Linked DNA regions of Homo sapiens: region 2 is linked to region 1. The links come from fine-mapping of genetic effects on plasma protein levels. Region 1 holds a variant in brackets. A gene starts in the other region. All regions are shown on their reverse strands.

The links. PIP is the posterior inclusion probability: the model's chance that the variant is causal. Protein levels are from antibody-based Olink assays in UK Biobank. Linkage for the fine-mapping came from a reference panel and not from the study's own genotypes, which makes the PIPs less certain.
Region 2: it holds the start of BMP4, and the variant in region 1 is fine-mapped to the plasma level of the BMP4 protein (UK Biobank, PIP above 0.99).

The regions. Positions count from the first base shown.
Region 1 is chr11:74,679,198-74,689,933 of GRCh38, reverse strand. It overlaps the pseudogene RN7SKP297. Among named protein-coding and RNA genes, the nearest start is that of MIR4696, 36 kb to the left of the region's middle. The variant G/C (reference allele first, on the strand shown) is at 6,265.
Region 2 is chr14:53,953,502-53,964,237 of GRCh38, reverse strand. It overlaps BMP4 (bone morphogenetic protein 4), which reads left to right and starts at 7,413. Exons shown (of 4, transcript NM_001202.6): 1 at 7,413-7,688. It overlaps LOC124903317, which reads right to left and starts at 10,056. Exons shown (of 2, transcript XM_047432035.1): 1 at 7,910-10,056; 2 at 1,882-2,377. The coding sequence starts at 8,337. The coding sequence ends at 2,329. RefSeq lists silencers at 7,451-7,530, 8,180-8,289, 10,489-10,578, 10,629-10,698 and promoters at 6,245-7,587, 5,469-7,587, 9,490-9,810, 8,515-9,810, 9,982-10,482.

The DNA.
Region 1 (10,736 bases):
AATGCTTTTATACTCCTCCCATTGAGAGGTAGCCCATGTGTGGCCCATGTCCCCACCCCTTAAATCTGAGTAGGCTGTGACTCATTTGTACCAACAGAATGAAACAGAAATTATAAGGGCTGATTTCCAAGGCTAGGTCAGAAATGGCAATGCAGCTACTGCTTTGCTTACAGAGATAATTGCTTTTGGACCCCTGAGCCACTTGTACAAAGTCCAACCACTATGAGGCCACCATGCTGTGAGGAAGCCAAGACGACATAGGTGACACACGTATATGCTCCACTCAACAGCCCCAGCTGAGCTCTGGGCCAACTATCAGAAACAATAAGCAGATATGAACATAAAGACCCCTCCAGAGGAATCCAGCACCCAGCTTGGAGTCTCCCCAGCTGAGACCCCAGACATTGTGGAACAGAGACAAACCATTCCCACCATGCCATCCCCAAGTTGCTGACCCACAGAATTCATGAGGATTAGAAAACAGTTGTTGCTGGGCGTGGTGGCTCACACCTGTAAACCCAGCACTTTGGGAAGCTGAGGCGGGAGGATCATTTGAGTCCAGGAGTTTAAGACTAGCCTGGGCAACATAGCGAGACCCTGTCTCTACAAAAAATAACAAGTTACCTGGTCATGGTGGCACACGTCTGTAGTCCCAGCTATTCAGGAAGCTGAGGTAGGAGGATTGCTTGAACCTGGGAGGTCAAGGCTGCAGTGAGCTATGATCATGCCAGTGCACCCTAGCCTGGACAACAGAACAAGATCCTGTCTCAAAAAAGAAAAGGAAAGAAAAAAAAAAAGTTGTTTAAGTTGCCAAATTCTGGGGTAATTCATTATGCAGCAAAAGCAAATGGAACTTTTCCAAATTTCTTCCAGAGCCCCAGCAAACTATCCCTCAGGTGTAGAGAACAGACCTAGGGAAGAGGACTGTGCAGTCCAAGAAGCAGACTCAGGGCTGCTTGGGCAGAGAATTCCAGGATCCTAGGTCCCCACTGTGGTCTAGAGAGGAGGTGGGGTGCACATACCCTCAATCCCATGGACCCCTTGGGCTGTGGGTAGGAGTGCAGCTGAAAGTGGGTCAGACTGGGGCCCTCCAGAGGGCATGGCCCAGGGTGGGGGTCCCTCTTTCCTGGGCTTAAAGGTGGTCCTGCCCTCCTTTACCACCATGGCTCCCTGCTACTACCAGCACAGGGGATGTAATTGTCCTCTGTGTCCAACTGCATCCTCAAAAGTCTCCAGTCTAGAGAGGGAGAGACATAAACAATGACAACAGAGTGACAAACACAGAAGAAGGCACAGGGGTGGCTGTGAGAACCCATGGCCAGGGAGCGGGGAGAGGGGTGTCAGAGGAAGCTTCCTGGATGAGGAGACATCCAAATAGAGACGTTAAGCAATTATTCAGGGAAAGTGGAGAAATCGTGTTTCAGTCCTAGGAAACAGGGAGGTCAGAGGCCTCACAACAGGCAAAAGTGGTGACAGGCAAGGATACAAATGGAGACTCCATGTCATATCACATATGATCTATTACATATTATGATATGTAGTCTCCATTTGCACTCTTGCCTGGGTCCTGCAAATCGGAGGGGTGGTACTGGTGGTGGTGGAGGCAGTAATGGTGGTGGTGGCAGTGGTAATGGGAGTAACAATGGTAGCAGTGATCATTCCAGAGCTCAACAACCATTGATTGAGCACCTACTGTATGTTAAACATCTGGGAAGCAGCAAAAAGTTCAGCCTGGCAAGAGAGTAGTATCGGGCAGTGGATGTAGGTGGTGCAGGAAGTGGGGGTGAGGGGCACGGGCTTTAGAGAGAAGCCTGGAGAGGCAGCAGAGGTCAATTTCCCCAGGGCCACCAGAACAGGGCTGATATTCAGGAAGGATGGGCTGGCAGGGCTGTCAACACTGGGGCCTATCCTGATTGCCCAGGGCCTATTCCAAATCAGTAGTTATTCTGAATATCTCCCCTATTTTTGAGCCTGGAACGATTTCCAGCAGGGGAGTGACTCAGACAGATTTGTGTTTTACAAAGATCCCTGAGGCTTCTGTGGGAGAAAGACTTGGAAGGAGTCAAGAATGGAAGCAGGGCAATCAGTTAGTATTAATAAGTTATTGCAGCTACCAGTGACAGAGATGGTGGCAGTCTGGATGAGGGTGTGGCAACAGAGAGGGAGAGAAGTGGGTGGGATTGCCAGCTATTTAGAGGGCAGAATCAACAGAAGCCACGGTGAGTCACACACAGCCCCTCACAGTGCAAAGGGGAAGAAAAAGCATGGATTTCAATAGCAATTAAAATTAGCATTGTTGTGTTTCGCAGGATATAAAGCCCTTTCACACGCACTGATGACATGAACCAGGGCTGGTGGAGTGAGCAGGGAAGATTTTCCTTCTGTAGGGGAGGGTCATGTGAGGCGAAAGGTTTTTTTGCTGCAGCCCTCCCTTTTCTTCCAGACTCAAATGCTATCAGTTAAGGACATGAGCCCTGGTGCTGCAGCAGCCATCTTGTGGCCATGAGGCTGAGAATGATAAAAGCCAGGATGCTGAGGAAGGCTGTCCTGAGCTGAGTCCTCAATGACCTTGATGACCTACACTGAAGCAGTCTGGAGACCACATACCTCCACATTTCTTGTTAAGAAAATAACAGATGTCCTTGCAGTTTATGCCACTGTAGCGGCACTGCCATTGACCCAATCACAATGCCTGTTATCCCTTTACCATTGTCATACATACCAGCTCCAGTGAGCTTTCATTCCCAACAGCCAGCACCTGCTTCTCTTTGTCAGAACACTGACCTTAGGCTGCCTGAGCCCACTTTGCCAGTGAGCATGGAAAACCAGAAGAGCCTGACAATGTCCACCTCCGCTCCACCCCAGGTGGCCCTTAGCTCAGACAGATGAGTATGGAGGTGCCAATCCTCCAGCTCCCTTGTGCTGATGTGGATGACTCTGAGGAGTGATTGCACGATCTCCGGAGCTCCTCTGCAAGTCTGAGTCAAGCTCCCCTCTGCGGGACTTGGCCTGAATCACACCCTTGCCTTGCCTTCTTCCCTTCCCACTTCTCCACACCCCTACTACTGGTTTGTCTTGGAAACACTTCCTAAGACATCACTTTCAACTCATCTTCTCATCTCAACTTCTGTTTCTAAGAATCCCAACCTAAGACAGCCACTGTTAGTCAGGTGTTCTGTACTTGCAGCCTAATGCATTCTAACAGACACAGGCCCAGCAAGGTAAAGGTCTAATAGCAATTTTGCTATGTTTCAGATGTAGGTTTCCTGCCTGCAAAACCTATCATTTGTTCAAACGTGCTAATAAGCTGATGATTAAAAACATAACTTTGTAAAGTGCTACATCCTAAACATAATAGCATTGGCAGCTAATTACTACCAATTACTGAGCATCTCCCATGAGCCAGGCACTAGGCCAAGGCTTTGATTACCTCCGTGACCCCATTTAATCTTCATTAGAACCCTATAAGGTGGACACTGTATTAATTTTGTATGCTGAGTAACAAATTACCACAAATTTAGCATATTTATTGTCTCACAGCTTCTGTAGGTCAGAAGCCTGGGAACAGACAGTTCTCTGCTTCAGGGTCTCACCAGCCTACAATCCAGGCATCAGTTAGAGCTGCAGTCTCATCAGAAGCTTGACTGGGGAAAGATCCACTCCCAAGTTCCCTTAAGCTGGAAAAATTCACCTCCTTGCAGTTGCAGGATTGAAGCCCTGGTATTCTTGCTGGCTGTCAGCCAGGGTCCACTTTCAGTTCCTAGAGGTGACCCACAGTCTTGCCACGTGGCCTTCTCCTAGGCCTTCTTGTAGCACAACAGCTTACTTCTTCAAAATCAGAACTCAGAGTCTCTGACTCCAGGGAGGGTACAGTTCCTCTTTTAAGGAATTTTCCCTGACTAAATCAGGCCCACTCAGCATAATCTCCCTTTTGAGTAACTCAGAATGTAATAATTTGGAACCCTAATTACATCTGCAAAATCTCTTCACCTTTGCCGTGTTCCAGCGGTCAGAAGCAAATCACAGGTCTTGTTCACACTCAAAAACTGGGGATAATACAGGGTGTGAACATTATGGGTGCCATACTAGGGTCTGTCTGCCACACTATTATTATCCAAATTGTACAGTTGAGGAAACTGAGGCAAAGAAGAGTTTAGTAATGCTACCCAAGATCATACTGCCAGTGAGTGAACGCGGAGTGTGGTTTCAAACCCATGCACTGTAGTTCAGAGCCTGCACTCCTTTTTTTTTTTTTCACCCATTTCCCCTTTCAAGAAGGAGCCTGCACTCTTATCTGTTACTCTGCACTGCCCAGACACTGCTCCAAATACTTTCCCTTCCTTATGTCCCCAAATTTCCTTGAAAATACAAGGAGGAAATGGAAGCTCAGAGAGGTTAAGGAACTTTTTCAAGGTCACACAGTACTGGAGTCAGGGCCACAAACTAGATTTATAAATCTCCAAGACCCAAGATCTTTAGAGCTTGTTTGGAGGTTCTAGTAGGGGAGCATAGCTCCTCATATACCCTTGACAGAGGGATGGTCCTCCTGTATCAGGAAGGTCATCCTCTTTGACCAAGCATGCAGCTTCAGGAGGGATGCACTGGAGTGGTGAGGGAGGAAGGGGACACCCGCCTAGCCAGCCAGACCGGCCAAATCAACCCTGTGATCATTGAGGTGACAGATGTCACAGCCAGATTGTCTTCACATCAAAAACCCAAGATCTTAACCAGTGTAGAAGGCAGTCAGTGCTTTAGCAGAGGACTAGAGAGTACGGAAGGAGTTCACAGGAGACAAAGAGCACCCCTACTGGGGCAGGGTGGGGCACAGTCATAGAGAAATAACAACATATAGCTATTTGAAAATGGGGGAGAGGGAGGGGAGAAAGTATATTTCCAAGGAGGGGACAGGTTAAGCAAAGTCAAAGCTGCAGGAAAGCACAGGTGTTTGGGATTGAACAGGGGTGGAGGGTAGTTTTGGGGGCACTGAGAAAGGAGACTGGAGATGTAGCCAGGTCCCAATTTGGAACACGAGGCTGAGGGGTCAGAGCTTTATTCTGAAGACAGTGGGGAGCCACACTCCAGTGACCCCACTCCTCTGCCCACAGGGAGCTCTCAAAGGGTGCTGAGCAGCAGCAGTCATGCACAAAAATGCCTTTAAGAGGGTGAATGCAGTGTGTGGAAGACAGGACTGTTTAGGGGTCTTCCTGCCTCTGATGGCATTTCCCACTCAAGGGCACCTGTGATTTTCCCATATCCCTAGGAGGAAGGGTTGATGTGAGGTCATGACCATTTTATGAGTGAGGAAACTGAGGCCCATTGGGAGACATGCGGGCCTGTGAGGGTAACAAGGCCCAGTGATGGGAACAAATGTCTCACTTCAGTCCTGGTGCTGGGAGTATGGGGACCAGCGATTATACTTTTCCTAGTTTATGGCTCATTCATCCTCATTCATGTAACAGAATCAGCATGAGGCTGTGGATTCCAAGGCCCCAAGCCCAAGGGTTCCGATTCAGCAGATGTGAGGTGGGGCCATCAACTGGCCTTTTTAAACAAGCACCCTGGTGACTCAGGGCCAGAGTATCCTTCAAGAAACCCTCAAGGGTGTAAGGATCCCAACCTCAGTGGGAGAACGCTGCCCATGATGCAGCCTTACCTGTGAGGGCCTCCTCCTGCCCCTTCCTCTGGGGGTGCCTCAGCCCAACTCAGGCCTCATCAAGTCACTGCCTCCAGCCTCAGCCCTTCAACCCCTCCTTTACACAGCAGCCCAAGTGAACTTTCCAAAAAGCAAAGCTGGCTTTCTCACGGCCCAGCTCAAACCCCTCCCGTGGCTCCCCGTCACACAGGTGGAAGTCGGCCTCCCCTGCCCGGGTTCCCGGGTCCAGCTCCAGAGAAGGCAACGCACCTGAGTTTTACTCCCCCGTTGCCTCTGCCTGGGCTGCCTTTTCCTGTGTACCGGGGGACCCCTCCTCAACCTCACCTAAGACGCAGCCCCCTGCCCCCAGAAAGGCTTTCTGTCCCTTGCCCCAGGACTAGAATACCTGCTGACCTTTTGTTTCTTATGTAAACCTCCCAGCAATACTCTAAGGGCTGGCTCCGGCTAGCGCTATTAATAATGGGGAAACGGAGGCTCAGAGCGTCAGTAACTTGCCCCAGGTTCCTCTGCTGTAAAAGGCGAGATTCGAACTCCAAACAGCTGCCCCTGGAGGGCTCCACTTCCCGCGGTTGCCAGCAGGGGTGCGCGGAGCCGCGGGGATCCGAGAGGCG[G/C]GGGCCGCGGTGGGGGCCGCGGTGGGGGCGCTGGAAGAACGGGGGCTTTGATTCCCATCTCCCGGCGCAGACCCAGACGCTAATTAAAATCGCCTGGGCCGCGGGGGCGGCGGGACGGGCACAAAGCCGGCTTTGACCGGGCGGCGGCGGCGCTGGCGGGCGCGGGGCCGCGTCGCACAGGGGCTGCTTGTGGCCGTGTTTGTTTTCGCTTGTAAAGCGCGGCCGCGAGCAGTGCCCGGGCGGCGTGGGGGTGCCCAGCCCGGGGAGGGCCCCTGAGGCCACGGCGCCCGCCCGGCCGCGCTCGCTACCCAGGGCCACCCTGGGCAAAGCCCTGCCCACTAGGGCCTCAGCTTCCCTTTCTCTCACAGGATGATAGCGGTGTCACTAGGAATGAACGCTTATTGGGCGCTTACTGTATTCCAGGGCCTGGACCGAGGCTTCTCCCACTTGGTTTTATGTCATCCTCCCGGCTCTATTAATATCCCCATTTTACAGATGAGGCCCAGGGAGGTTGAACACCTTGCCCAAGGTCTCACGGGTTTAAAGGAAAGAGCAAGGCCTAAAGTCCAGCAGAGGGAGAGCAGGGTTCGGGGCAGCTGGGTCACAGGAGGTGGGTGTATCGGGGAGAATGTTCCTGCTCAGAGCCCGCTCACTGCCTATCAAGCTGCGCTTTGAGAGTGAACTCCCATCGCCGGGGTACTGAAGCGGAGCCTTAGACTGAACCAGTGGGGGCCCTCTGAGCTTCCTTCCAGCTTGGGCCATTAGGGTCCCTCAGTGTGCGGGAGTGGCACTGCCCTGAAAGGAAAGCCTTTTCTGGGCTGCACTGGGCATTGGGGGTGGGGTCCGAGTATTGCCAGTGCTGGCAGAGGAGTAGGTCTCTGTGGATGGGTGGGAACCAAGAAAAGATAGGAGCTTCTTCCTTGGGAGCCCCCATGTTTGGAAGAATCTCCTGGCTTCTATAGTCATTGAATCACCAAATCTTAGTGGCCTTTGCACTTGCACCCACCCTGTGGTTCTGTCTTTCACTCACTTTTCACTGAGATTCCCACTCATCCTTCAGTTCTCAGCTCAGAGCAAGTTATACCCTCCCAGCACCCATCACTTCTTCATACCCATCACAGTGGTAATGGTGCACTCAAGGCATTGGCCCTTTCTGTCTGACTCAGAGCCCTGAGGACGAGACTGTATCAGCTTGCCCCCCTCTCAGCTACCAGGTCCCTCCCTTCATAAACAGGCCCAGGAAGGTGCACTGGGGAGTATTTCCTCTGGTGCCTCCAGATCAGAGCTCAGTCAAGGCCTGGCTGGAGGTCTTGGGATGAGAGTGGGCATGGTCAGAGAAATACAGAAGCCCGATGGGGGCCCAGGCTCACTGCCTAAGGAGGTGACTGATAAGGCGGCTGACAGTGTCCATCCAGTGACATGGCACCGATGGAGTGTCCTGTGGCTGGGGGTCCTGCCTCCCTTCTGAGACTGGTTCTCTGGTAGCCTCAGCTCTGTGCCTCTCTTCCTCCCTCGAGCTAGCCCCCCAGCCCCTATTTGCCCTGTGTCTGCAGATGGCTGGCTGGGAGGGCTTCGACCTGGATAGGAGTCCCCCACTGATCCCAGCCACCTGTGAGGAGGAGAACAAGGCGGGAGGGAGGATTTCTCTAAGGCTCTCCCCCTCCCTAAGACCTGGGAGCCAGAGCTTGGACAGAGACACTATTAACACAAACTCTGCAAACATGGCTTCTAAAAATAGCTCTGGCTGGCAAGGCCCACCTGGCACAGACTGCACCTTTGCGGCTGCTGGCCTGCTCCCCTTGGAGCATGGGCCATCAGTCTGTCAGCAGACATGTCACTCTGCCCTCTTCCCCCAGGGGACGGGGCAGCCACAGCCTTAGGTGGGATCCAGGGGAGAGACCCTCGTGAAGATGGGGCTTGTCCCAAACTGATGAGGGGGAGAGGGAGGATGTGCGATGTCAGGAGGAAGACAGTCTTGGCGATAAGGTGGATTGAGGAGACAGCACTGCCCACAGGGAACTCTCAAAATGGGTTGGGGGAAGGACACAAATGTATGAAAGAAGACCAAAGCAGCATTTAAACTCCTGCAAATGAAAGTGCCAAGACGAAGAAGGAAAGCCTGCGGGGAGGAGGGCAGGGCCAGGAGCGTGGTTCCATGATCATTATAGACCCAGATGGGGGTGGGCATATGGTCACCCCCACAGCAAATCCTCAGGACCTCAGAGCCAGGAAGGAACCCAAAAGCTCACCTTGTCCAACCCTTTTATTGGACACATGAGAAAACTAAGGCCCAAGTTGTTGAGCCTTGCCCCAGGTCCCTCCACACGGGTCTGCTGGCCTCATGCCATTTCCACCAGGCCTCTGGGCCTCCCTGTCTGCGGGCTGATGGAATGACCATAATTAATGTTTCTCAGAATGCTCCTTTTTCATTGTCAGTTTATTGAGAAAAGCTTTACTGAGCACCTACTGTGTGCCACACACTGGGTTCACAAAGCTGAACTGGACAGGCAGGCCCCTGCTTTCCAGGCTAATGGCAACACCCACTTGTGTGCACAGAGCTCTCCTGTGCATTCACATAAATTCACAGAATGGAACACAGTTTCCCAGCTTACAGCTGAGGAACCCGAGGCTCACGGAACTTTGTCATCAGCAAAGTTGGGGCCGGAGCCTCCCCATGTTGCCTCAGGAGGCCCCGGGTTGCCTCCGAGTCAGTGGGGACAGGCCTGTAGGAGGCTAGTCATGTGCTCCTGGAATGTCTCCTGTCCCGGATGCCACCATGGAGGAGAGCTGAGAGGGCGCTGGAGGCCCTGGGACCGGAAACGCGCAATTCCGCTGCAGTGCCTTGCTTTTGGTTGGGTTCGGTGGCGTACCCGGACACATTACATAGGTAGACCCTGCCCTCGCAGAGCTCATGGGGAAGCCCTGCTGCTCCCTATTGGGTAGCTTCTAGTAGTCCTCCCTAGCCCTCCTCATGAATTCATCAGACCACACACAAATGCCCACTCCTGGAGTGGGAAAATAAAGCAAGAGCGGTCGTCTTCCTCCCCGCCCTCACACAGGCTCCATCAGGGTCTCTGGAGGGGAGGGGCATAGTGGTCAGTAGATGTGAAGCCACCTGACCTCCCTCAAGGGCACCTGTCCGTGCTGGTCCCTCACAACAACCCCTGGGAAGTGCCCATCTGAGTTCTTTCTGTAGACACCCCAGGCTCACCCTCGGTGAGGACCTGTGTTCCTTTCTCCTCTTTTTCTGGCATCACGGTGAATTCTTCTCTGCAGTGGGTTCATTCAAGGTGGAGCCTGCACATCCACTCCAACTATTCCCCCATGCCCCCAGGGGCACATCCCCGCATCTACACCTCCCTGCTTGCTGCCCAGAACTTTCCAGAACACCATGATGCAATGCTTGCCTAAGTCTCCACATCCATCACACACCTTGTGGGCTGACAGGGCCCTGACCCTGGGCCCAGGGAGTAGCCAGCTGTTCCACTCTGCTCACAGACTCTGGAGATCCATCTGCCACAGAGAGCTCTCCATGCCTTAGAAGGCCCCCTCCGTGCACAGCCCCATCGGATGAAAATGGCCACTCTGAACATATGATTGTCATTTTGAGATGACCCTTCCACCCTAGCCACACCTGAGCAAAGGCCACATCTCTGGGCTGGACCTAAGAGAGGCGTGTGCTCTGTGAGGCAGCCCGGCTCTGGAACACTGAGGGTAAGTAGAGTCAAAACCTAACCTGAGGGCACAAACCATGTTGGCAGTCATGCCTTCCCTAATATTTTGTTCTCATGAAACGGCTCCCCATTCCCTTTCACGGAAGCAGTGTGGGCAGGTCTTTGCCCAGCGCAGGCCACTGACCAGCCAGAGGTGGGGAGAGTCCCAGCTCACAGGCCCCCAGAGCCTGAGGAGGCCCCTGGGAAGAGTCTGCCAGTGAGGTGATGAACTCACTGTGCTCCCTCCAGGGATCTGGCCTGGGGCCGGCTCAGAGCACTGGGCCAATGGGAGTGGAGGGGACAAAGCACACAGAGGGCTGCCTTGGTGTCTGAGCCTTCCCCAGTTCCAGGCCACACAGGTCCCCCAGAACTACTCCCAAGGTGCCCTGAGAGAGTCTGTGCCCCTTGCATCCAAAATACTGGTCTAGCAAACAGATCCTTTCTCTTTGGGGTTTAAGTGGGAGACCCAACAAGTGTGAAGGAAAGAGCAGCAGACCTGGCGTGAGGCTGGGGAAGGAGCTAGGGCTGCTGCTACTTTGGAGGGCACTGAGGAGCCACCAGGCCAGCAGGGCTGCAGTGTAGACACTGCCATCAAAAGGCCATGCCACCGGAGAAGTCCTTCTGTGCTCCCTCACTGTCCCCACAGTACCTCAGGGGCTCTCTTTTCCTTGTAGCAGGAACAACCTAAACATGCCACTGGACTCCTGCAAAAACCCTTGGGCTGGAAGGGAGAAGCCCCAGCCATGGCATTAACTGCAG
Region 2 (10,736 bases), not on the chromosome of region 1:
GCCTGTCTTAAGATGGAAATGGTAGTGGAGGGGGCAGCTAGCTAGGAAAGCAAGCTTAACAAATACTATCCAAATTTAATTTTCTGCCACTATCATCGGGGCTCCTGTACCCTGTTGCCCCGGCGTCCCCTTAGGCTTCACGGAGAGAACGTCAGGGAGCAGGGACAAAATTGTCCCAGGAGCCGCTCTGCCGCTGCCAGGGCGTTAAGACCTCCTGTCCCTTTCGTTTTAAAAATTTCATTCATTCATTCTGGGGATGGTCCATTGTTTCCAAGTTCTGGTAGGCGAGAACGCTTAGCGTCTCAGGAACCTCTCGTGCGGATGGATGCAAATTCCGCGCGGGTGGCTCGCCCAGGTTGCCCGGGCGCTCGCTGTTTATTCAAGTGTGGATCAGGTTAGCCACCAGGGGCACAAATCCTGCAAAACGAGTCTGAGAGTGGGGCGAGCTGTTGCAGGCAGGGAGGTGCAGCAGCCGAACTAAAAATAACGAGGGCAAGAGAAAGGCGGGAGTGCCGAGATCGCGCGGTGAAGGTGGCGTGGCGGTGGGCAGAGCGCGGGAGCCAGCTGTGGGGCGCGGTCAGGGTGACCCTCCACCCACCCTTCGCTGACGTGCGTGGAGGCTTACTAGGGCGTCGCCTCAGGGACCCGAGAGGAGTGCCCAAGGGGAAGGCGCAGTAGCCGCTCCCCCCACCACCAGCCACTGGACACAGCCTAGTTCTCACACCCCACTGCTCTCCTCCGGTGGCCCTGGGGTATCAGCGGAGCACGCGGACGTTTCTTTACGTTAGTTAGCGGACATCGGGGAAGTACAGTCTGCCCCTGATCAGGGAGGGAATGCGGATAAGGAGCTGGAAAGTTGTCCTGCTTAGCTGGCTCGAGGAGGGGTGGGGAGGTACTGGGGCTGGTGAGCCTCGTGTCCCCAGCATGTTGTCGCAGCTGCAGTCTAGAAAGACAAGGAGGGACTCCGAACTTCCCCGCGTGCACACCTTGTTCTTCTTCTGCCTGGAGGAGGTGAGCGGAGTGTCCATCTGGGCTGCTCCTCAAGAGCAGGACTCCCTCCTTCAACCCTTCACCTCATACTTTACTTGCAGCCCAGGCTCTCAACACCTGTCTTGATTTCTCTGACTCCTTGAAACTGAGTTTGCACAATCTCTGAGCCTGGCCCTGTGGTTGCAAGATTCTGAAAAGGGCCAAAGTCCGGCCACATGCACTTAGCTCCATCTCTCTGCATCAAGGCTGGGATTCAGCTGTGGTGAGGGACCAAGACAGTCACTTGGGAGTCCCATTTTCTCTATCACAATCCTTTCCCCAGCCCATCTCCTAAGCCCAGGGCTCCCAGAATTTGGGGGTGGAGCCCATATCTTTCTCTTAAACTGTTATCTGTTTTGGATGAAGTTTTACCTTCCTGCATTTCTATCCTAAGAAATGCATATCTGATGACCTTGCCATTTCGCCCCAGAGATTGATGGTTTGCAGTGCCAGTCTGAGCTTCTTAGCAAGAGAAGCCAAGGAAGGAAAGAGCTGAGCACAAGTCTCAGATGCCTCCAGGAGCTTCTGTTCTGGTCCAGTGGTTACCAGCCCTCCCATGAGTTTAAGGAACGTGCCAGGATTGTGTCAGACATCTTGCCTTCTGCTATGGGCTGTACTGGTCCCCAGAGGCCAGGCCTTGGTTGGTACAACTGTTCTTTCTTCTGTGGCCCCAGAGTGGATTTCCTGAAGCCACAGTTCAGTTTCTCAGGTGCTGTGGCCACCAGAGGACCAAAGATTAGGCTCCCCCTGGTTTTGCCCTGCCTAACCATTTGGCTCCAAACATTGTGTGTTGCTAGTAGGCTTCAACTAATGGTCAAAGAAAATAACTTTAAAAAAATCATTTCAAAAGCATAGTTTCTATAAGTATTTAATTAAAAAATATGTAACACAGAAAGTGCACAAATATCAAGTATACAACTTGATGAATTTTTACAAAGTGAACATCAACAAGCATCTTTGAGTTGTGTATTACATCTATACTTAATCCCTGAGAGGATTATAAATACTATGCAATTATTCTTGAACAGAACATTAACGAAAAAGGCTCTCCACCAAAGGGCTGTGAAATGTGTGAACTATTAGTAAAAACATCCAAGTATTACTTATACAATAATAATTCCTGGGATCACATATCCCTTTGGACAGGTTTCCTTGAGAAAGACTAGAAAGCTTTTAGCATGAGTTGAGGGTAGAATATCAGCTGGTATTCCGCAATTGGCGTCTGATTGAGAAAACACAATAACCATTTGGTACAGTCAGGTGTCCATGTAGCACTCTGCCTCTGCTTCCAAGTGTCACTCATCCTATAGACACTACGTTCTTGTTCAGGTTACACTGTTCCCACACACTGGGGTCAGAAAAAGAGAAGGAGAAGGATGTATGAGCACAAAACAAAGAAATTTCAAGGTTTAATCTTTTTTATATCCTCTAAAATAATTTATTTTCAAAGAGCATCCCTGTTGTAGAATTAAATGAGTGCAGTCGACTATTTTTTTAGGAGAGGAAGCTGAGAATAGTCAAAACCCAAATATCTGTCATTGCATGCCAATCCCATCCTGATCATTCCTTAGAAAAGACTTTTCATATCCATGCCCTGTCTGCCATCCACGTTAAACATGTTATGACATAAAAACAGTCTTTTCATCTGTCTGATATCACTGGGGGTTCATTTAGAAGTCTCTGTCCATTTTGGATTTTTGTTTGTTTGTTGTTGTTTTTGTTGTTGTTTTTGAGACAGAGTCTCACTCTGTCGCCCAGGCTGGAGTGCAGTGGCGTGATCTCAGCTCACTGCAAGCTCCGCCTCCTGGGTTCACGCCATTCTCCTGCCTCAGCCTTCCGAGTAGCTGGGACTACAGGCGCCCGCCACCATGCCTGGCTAATTTTTTATATTTTTAGTTAAGATGGGTTTTCACCATGTTAGCCAGGATGGTCTCGATCTCCTGACCTCGGTATCCACCTGCCTTGGCCTCCCAAAGTGCTGGGATTACAGGTGTGAGCCACCGCACCTGGCTTGGATGTTAATATTGAAGGGTTTTTATAGAAAGGACCATATTCCAGAAAGTATCAAGGCAGCAATTTAAAACATAGGGAACTGAAATAGCATTGGATTTTCTTTTTGTCATGAGAAAATATCAGCATCCAGTATTATTTACTTTGAGTGAGGCATATCAAAGGTTGGCAACAATATTAAATGTTTAGAGAAGGAACAACTTGTGCAATTGGGTTAAAAGTTCATCTTTAGATCAGAATAAAGAAAATGAGTTTATGTTTTAGCTTGAGGGACAGGAAAAAAAATTCTTAAAAGTTAGAGGTGTTAGGAATCCGCAAAACAGACGGAGAATGCTTTTTGGACATGTCATTCAGTCTCAGCCTATTAGTAAAAACTAATTGCTCAGAGTAGGTATGATTTTGACAGTGAGTAGTTATCTTGGCACAGCTATGTTCATGGGTCAGATCTATATAGACAAAGCATAATGAGTGGACATTGGAGATTAAGCAATTTGACTGTGATTTTAACTACCAGGATATATTGTCTCTGTATTCCAGAGCCTGAGAAAGACCTGTGAGGACCCTGTTCAAGCTCCACATTTTACAATGAGGAAACTTGGACCCAGCAGAGATAATGAGCTCCTTTCTCAAGATCATAACCTTTTTCTCAGGAAAGGTCACATAAAAGTCTTGCCCTAAGGCGGGCTTATATAGTAACGTCAGGAAGAAACAAACTTCTAGGTCTTGATTTTGTTTTGTTATCTAAGAACTTGGGAAGATATCCTGAAATTCCTGGTAATAGCATGCTGCCAGGATGGAGCAGCAGCTGGTGCCTTGGCCTGGGGAAAGCTTCCAGGATAAGCCTCGGGGATCCATCCACAATACCCCTCACTTGCCCAGGGAGAGGAGACAGACTGACATGGTTTGGACTTGGGGTCCACCACTTTCTAGCTTTGTGACCTTGAGCAACTTACATAACGTCTCTAAACTTCAGATTCTCATCTGTAGGACAGGGATTTTATAAGGGTTGTTGTAAGGGCTAGAGATATATAGGGCAAATATATAAGATATGATAAATATTAATAAGAGGAAAACTAAATTTCTAGCCAATTTCAGAGACCACTTCCAATTCCAATTCGAATTCGAATTCCAATTCCAATTGATCTATCTTACTGCTTCTCAAAACTTAGCAGTGATTCTGGGAATTCCTTCCGTAGCTTCACCAGACACCTAATTGGCCAAGAAGGTTTGAAGACCTGATGTGGTTCTTAATTGGGGATGGGGAATTAAGGGCTACTGTATCTATAGGATTATCTTTTCACTTGCATAGACCTATTTGGTGTGTTCAGGGCATAGTGATACTATAATTGCCATATTTAACAGTTTATAAAGTTCAAGCCCAGCATATTCTTTGCCTGTTTAATGATGTCTTGGTATCAGCCTTTTAATGGTACTTATCAGCATAGAAAATGGAAACAAAATAACTTTTAAAACAGTAGCTCTCAAGCTTTAGTGTGCTCAGAATGACCAGAGAACCTTGTGAAATATACAGATTTCTGGGTCCAGATCTGGGGCAGGACCAGGAAGTCTGCATTTCATCTGCACCCCCACCCTACTCTGAGGCTTATAGTCCTGAGAACATGCTTTGAAAAAGGCTGTCCCAAGGGCTCGCAGACAGGCTATTGACCAGCTACTCTTTCTTGATGTTCTCCAGGAAAAACCCAACAAAGGAATGCCTTTCATTGAGTAGTAGCAGCATAGGAGCAATAGTTGCTCCTGAATTATGGTGGGTTTCCCCTCTTCATCAATGTGCTTTAAGGGTACAGTTTCATTTGGTCTATCTACCATGTTCTATAAAAACATGAAAATTCACAGGTAAGTTTGAGATACAGAAAATAACTAAACTGATTCTTCTCACGAACTCTGATCACTAGGCTGTGGTTGATTTAGCTCTCTAACCAACAAGTAATTTGTTCTTTGGCATGAGTAAGGGGGGAAAAGGAGGAGTGGGTAAAAGCAGCTGATAACAGATGGCTTGCGCCCATCTAAAATGTGGGGAGAGAAATAAAGCTGTCCCAAGAGAACTAAAGCTGAGTTCTCTCGTCATATATCTGAAGATTCATATCAGGGGTCTAAACATGGTATGTCGGGTAGCTTAATTGGAAACTCCTGGACTGTGAGTGTCACAGACTCATGGATGGGCCAATCAGTGGCCACTTTAGTGTCTGGGCTGCAGCAAAATGAGACAATAGCTGTCATTCAAAAACCTTTGGAATTAAAAAAACCCCGAAATGACATTGGTGCTTTAAAGTAAAATAAAGTCCTGCCTTTAAGTCCAGCATATCACTGTTGTTTCTGAGTTTAAATATTAAGAACCACATTTCGTTAATGATTAAAACAACAGTGATTGATTTAGGGGCTCAGTGAGCATTTAATCTGTCCTGACTTCAGGTACCATGCTAAAGGAGCACAATGCCTGATGCTGCAGGAGAAACATTAGGTAACTATTTAATGGAGTTTTAATTTTCTGTTATTATTTTTAATAATTAATTGTGATTTTGACTATTTGGAAGCTACAGGTATATTTTGTCCTCCTTTTGGGGTGGTGTTATTGCCCTGCCCTGTTTTAATCAGTGGTTCTTAGAGAAAGTGAACTCAGGAGTGACTTAAAATGAAGGAAGACGGACTTTGGCTAAAATTACAATTAAATAATCAAATCATTTTCAAATATAAAGGGAGCATGCAGATGATCTGGCCCAATCCTTTCATTCTGCAGATGAGAAAACTGAGACTCATAGGAATGAAAAGACTTGCCCAAAGCCATACAGCTTGTTTCTGTTGTTTGGTGCATTAGGCCAAAAGACCTAGGCCTAATAGATGGAAAAGATGGCAGGATGTCTTGGCCTTGCTCTGACAGTTGCTTCTCTGATCTCAGATATTTCCCACCCTTTGTAATCTGTGTTCCACACAGGAAGTAGTTCTTGTTTTTTAAATATCGAAGGTGTATAAACGTAAAGTTTTTATAGATGAGCCACCCAGGGCCAATATCTGTTTAAGTAAAGACCTAAATGCTTTGCAGAGACAGTAAAGTGTCATGTCTGTCCCAGGGAAAGAAATCCAGGACAGGAAATGCTCAGTCTTCCAGCACTCCTCTGGCTACCTGGAGCTCAGGCTATGAGCCTCAACCCCTCCCTGAAGCATTAGCTCTGGAGCAGAGGCTGTGATTTACTTCAGAGATCTGGGCAAGTCCCTTTAACCTGGTAGTCCTGCCTTTCCTTGTTTGTAAAACAGAGAGATGAGGCTGATAGCTCCCTCACAGCTCCATCAGAGGCAGTGTGTGAAATTAGTTCCTGTTTGGGAAGGTTTAAAAGCCACCACATTCCACCTCCCTGCTAATATGATTACTAAAATGTTTTTATATGAAAGGGCCAATTCCTCATCTCCCCTCTTCCTTTAAAAACAGACCAAGGGGCATCTTTTCTTGTCTCCCTGTGGCCTAAAAGGTTACTGCTTCTGTGGTTATCTCCTTGGAAAGACAGAGTGTCAGGACTCTTAGGTACACCAAAAATGAACAAAAAAATCAACAACAACCATAACACCAACAAAAATAACTGCTGTGTCGGTTCTTAAGACGGCTTCTGAGCTAGAAACAGATTTTTCTAACTGTAAAAAACGTGGCCCCAGCCTGTCTGCAGGCCACCTCTGTCTTTAGGCCTTGGGGGGAGGAGGGAAGTGAGCTCATTTACTGGGGTCTACCTCAGGGTCATCACCAAGGTGTTCTACAAAACGCACTTTAAGAATGTTTTGGAAGGAAATTCACCTTTTAACAGCCCAAGAGGTATCTCTCTCTGGCACACAGTTCTGCACACAGCCTGTTTCTCAACGTTTGGAAATCTTTTAACAGTTTATGGAAGGCCACCTTTTAAACCGATCCAACAGCTCCTTTCTCCATAACCTGATTTTAGAGGTGTTTCATTATCTCTAATTACTCAGGGTAAATGGTGATTACTCAGTGTTTTAATCATCAGTTTGGGCAGCAGTTACACTAAACTCAGGGAAGCCCAGACTCCCATGGGTATTTTTGGAAGGTACGGCGACTAGTCGGTGCATGCTTTCTAGTACCTCCGCACGTGGTCCCCAGGTGAGCCCCAGCCGCTTCCCAGAGCTGGAGGCAGCGGCGTCCCAGCTCCGACGGCAGCTGCGGACTCGGGCGCTGCCTGGGCTTCCGGGACCCGGGCCTGCTAGGCGAGGTCGGGCGGCTGGAGGGGAGGATGTGGGCGGGGCTCCCATCCCCAGAAAGGGAGGCGAGCGAGGGAGGAGGGAAGGAGGGAGGGGCCGCCGGGGAAGAGGAGGAGGAAGGAAAGAAAGAAAGCGAGGGAGGGAAAGAGGAGGAAGGAAGATGCGAGAAGGCAGAGGAGGAGGGAGGGAGGGAAGGAGCGCGGAGCCCGGCCCGGAAGCTAGGTGAGTGTGGCATCCGAGCTGAGGGACGCGAGCCTGAGACGCCGCTGCTGCTCCGGCTGAGTATCTAGCTTGTCTCCCCGATGGGATTCCCGTCCAAGCTATCTCGAGCCTGCAGCGCCACAGTCCCCGGCCCTCGCCCAGGTTCACTGCAACCGTTCAGAGGTCCCCAGGAGCTGCTGCTGGCGAGCCCGCTACTGCAGGGACCTATGGTGAGCAAGGCTACCTGGTGAGGGGAGACAGGCAGAGGGGGTCTAGGAGCCTCCTTGGGGGGAAGAAGCTGGTCACAGGCTGTGACCGAGGCAAAAGGTGGCCTAATTATTTTCCAATAGTGGTGCTGGAGGTGGGGATGCTGGCGCTGAAAGACCTTTAAATATCGGCTACTGCCCCTGCCCAGGCCTTCTCTGTCCAGCAGTCCCTGGGAGATTCTCACCTTTGGGAAGTGCGGGGCAGGAGAGCAGAAACAAGAGAAGCCCTTGGTAGGGGGGTCGTTGGGAAAAACTGTGGGGTCTTGGGCTGAACGCGTTGCCCACGGGCTGGAGGTTGCGATCCCCGGACGGAAAGCGCGGGAGGAGGAAGGAGAGAACCGGCTCTGAGGTCCAGAGAGAGTGAGGGGGCAGAGCGACGGCGAGATGGGGAGAGAACACCTAGCTGGAGCAGGTTCTGCGGTAGAGAGCGCAGTCCTGCTGGCCTCTGGAGAGTGCGCGCCGCTCCGGAGGCTGCGTCGAGGGGAGTGTCACCCAATCTGGCCCCCAGCTGGCGGGGCGCCCTGAGAGCTTGCGAACTGCAGTTGCAGGACGCGCCTTCTCCACGAGCTATTTTCGTCGACTTGCGGAACCCAAGGAACCTCGCCTCTATCATTTCACGGTGTAGGGTCCCTAGAGACGACAGCCAAGATCCCAGGGGCTCCCAGGACGCTTGTTCCTGCGGTGTCGTGTCCTATGGGGAGTTCCTGGCGGGACGAAAGGCGGACGCGCGGCTCTTCCTGGCCCTCCAGGCCCGGAACCGACGGGAAAGGTTCCCGTGATTCCCGAGTCCCTGCAGGCTTCTTCCAGCGGGAGTTGGTCCGGGGGCCTTAGAGGCCTCCAAGCACTGCTTTGGAGGATGGTTTCCAAGGATCGCGGTTTGTGAGTTGAAGGCTTTGTGAGAGGTTAAACCCCCAAAAGATACATACTTGGTAAACTGAGGCTACCTGTAAACACATTTCGGCATTAGGAGAAGATTCGAGTAGGGAAGTGAAGGACAACCACCCCGAGTTACATTCCTTTCCCCCAATAAAAAGCTCTGGGGATGAAAGTTCTTTTGGCTTTTATCTTTTCGATTTAAAAATTTGAGAAGAAAAATGTGACTAGAGATGAATCCTGGTGAATCCGAAATTGAAACACAACTCCCCCTTCCCCTTCCTATCCTCTCGGTTTTAGAACCGCGCTCTCCCGCCCCAGGAGATTCCTTGGGGCCGAGGGTTTTCCGGGGAACCCGGGCGCCCGCCCCTTCTACTGTCCCTTTGCCCCGCGGGCACAGCTTGCCTCCGTCTGCTTTCTCTACTTCTGGACCTCTCCTCGCCGGGCTTTTTAAAGGGCTTCTGCGTCTCAAAACAAAACAAAAAAACCCTTTGCTCTTCCCAACCCTTTCGCAGCCCGCCCCAGCGGTGGCGCGGGACCAGCAAAGGCGAAAGCCGCGCGGCTCTTGCCGGGCGCGGACGGTCGCGCAGGGGCGCCCGCGGCCTCCGCACCCGGACCTGAGGTGTTGGTCGACTCCGGGCATCCACGGTCGGGAGGGAGGGCTGAGCTGTTCGATCCTTTACTTTTCTTCCTCAAAGTCTACCTGCCAATGCCCCTAAGAAGAAAACCAAGTATGTGCGTGGAGAGTGGGGCGGCAGGCAACCCGAGTTCTTGAGCTCCGGAGCGACCCAAAGCAGCAACTGGGAACAGCCTCAGGAAAGGGAGGTCGGGTGGAGTGGGCTTTGGGGCAGGAGTCATGGGGCCCGGGCCCCGGGGACGACCTGGCGCTCCCGGCCCTGCTGAACGCTGAGTTGCGCCTAGTCGGGTTTTCGAAGAGGCCCTTGCGCAGAGCGACCCACGCGCGCGGCAGCATCTTCGATTAGTCAGGACATCCCAGTAACTGCTTGAACTGTAGGTAGGTAAAATTCTTGAAGGAGTATTTGCTGCGTGCGACTCTGCTGCTGGTGCAACGGAGGAAGGGGGTGGGGGAAGGAAGTGGCGGGGGAAGGAGTGTGGTGGTGGTTTAAAAAATAAGGGAAGCCGAGGCGAGAGAGACGCAGACGCAGAGGTCGAGCGCAGGCCGAAAGCTGTTCACCGTTTTCTCGACTCCGGGGAACATGGTGGGATTTCCTTTCTGCGCCGGGTCGGGAGTTGTAAAACCTCGGCCACATTAAGATCTGAAAACTGTGATGCGTCCTTTCTGCAGCGACGCCTCTTTCTGAATCTGCCCGGAGCTTCGAGCCCCGGCGTCTGTCCCTCAGCCTGGCATGGCTTCTTCGGGGGTCTGCTTTGCATGGGGAGAGGGGCCACGCAGCGGCGGACTAGGTTTGGGGATTCTCGGTAATGGACCCGGAGCAATGACTAACAGCCGCTCCCTCTCACTTTCCCACAGCGATCACCCTCTAACACCCTCCCTCCCATTCCCGGCCCCGCGCGTGACAAGGTCGGCTGCTTTCAGCCGGGAGCTAGATCGGTGGCCCGGCTCTTCGGAGCCTTAGCAGGCGTTCGCCAAGGGGTGACTGGCTGTCATTGGGAGCAATATTTGGCCTTGAGGAGACCCTGGGGAGGAAGTGGCGGGGAGCTCGTGTTTGCTTGTGTGTGTGTGGGGGGGTGTGTGTGTACACGCGCGTGGGCAGGGTCCCTCTGCGCTTTCCTTTTTAAGTGCCTCTCGGTGGTGAGGCTTTGGGCGGGTGAGACTTTCCCGACCTCGCTCCCGGCCCCACTTAAGCCGGGTTCGAGCTGGGAGACGCAGTCCCTTCAGTGCGCCCCAAATCCTCTGGCTTCAGGTGGCCCGGCGCGGGGGCCCAGCACGACGCACCGCGCCGAGAACCGGGTTCTCCGTGCGCTGCGCCAGTAGCCCTGGGAGCGCGGCGGCCGCGGGGCACCGGCCGAGGGCTCTGCCGAGCGCCGCCGGGAGCTCCTCCCGGACCGCTGAGGCTCGGGCGGCGGGCGCGGAGGTTGGCCTCGCCTGGAGGGGCGGGCCCGCGAGGGGCGGGGGGCTGTGGAGGAGGGGAGGGCGCGCAAGCCCTTTCGCCGCCT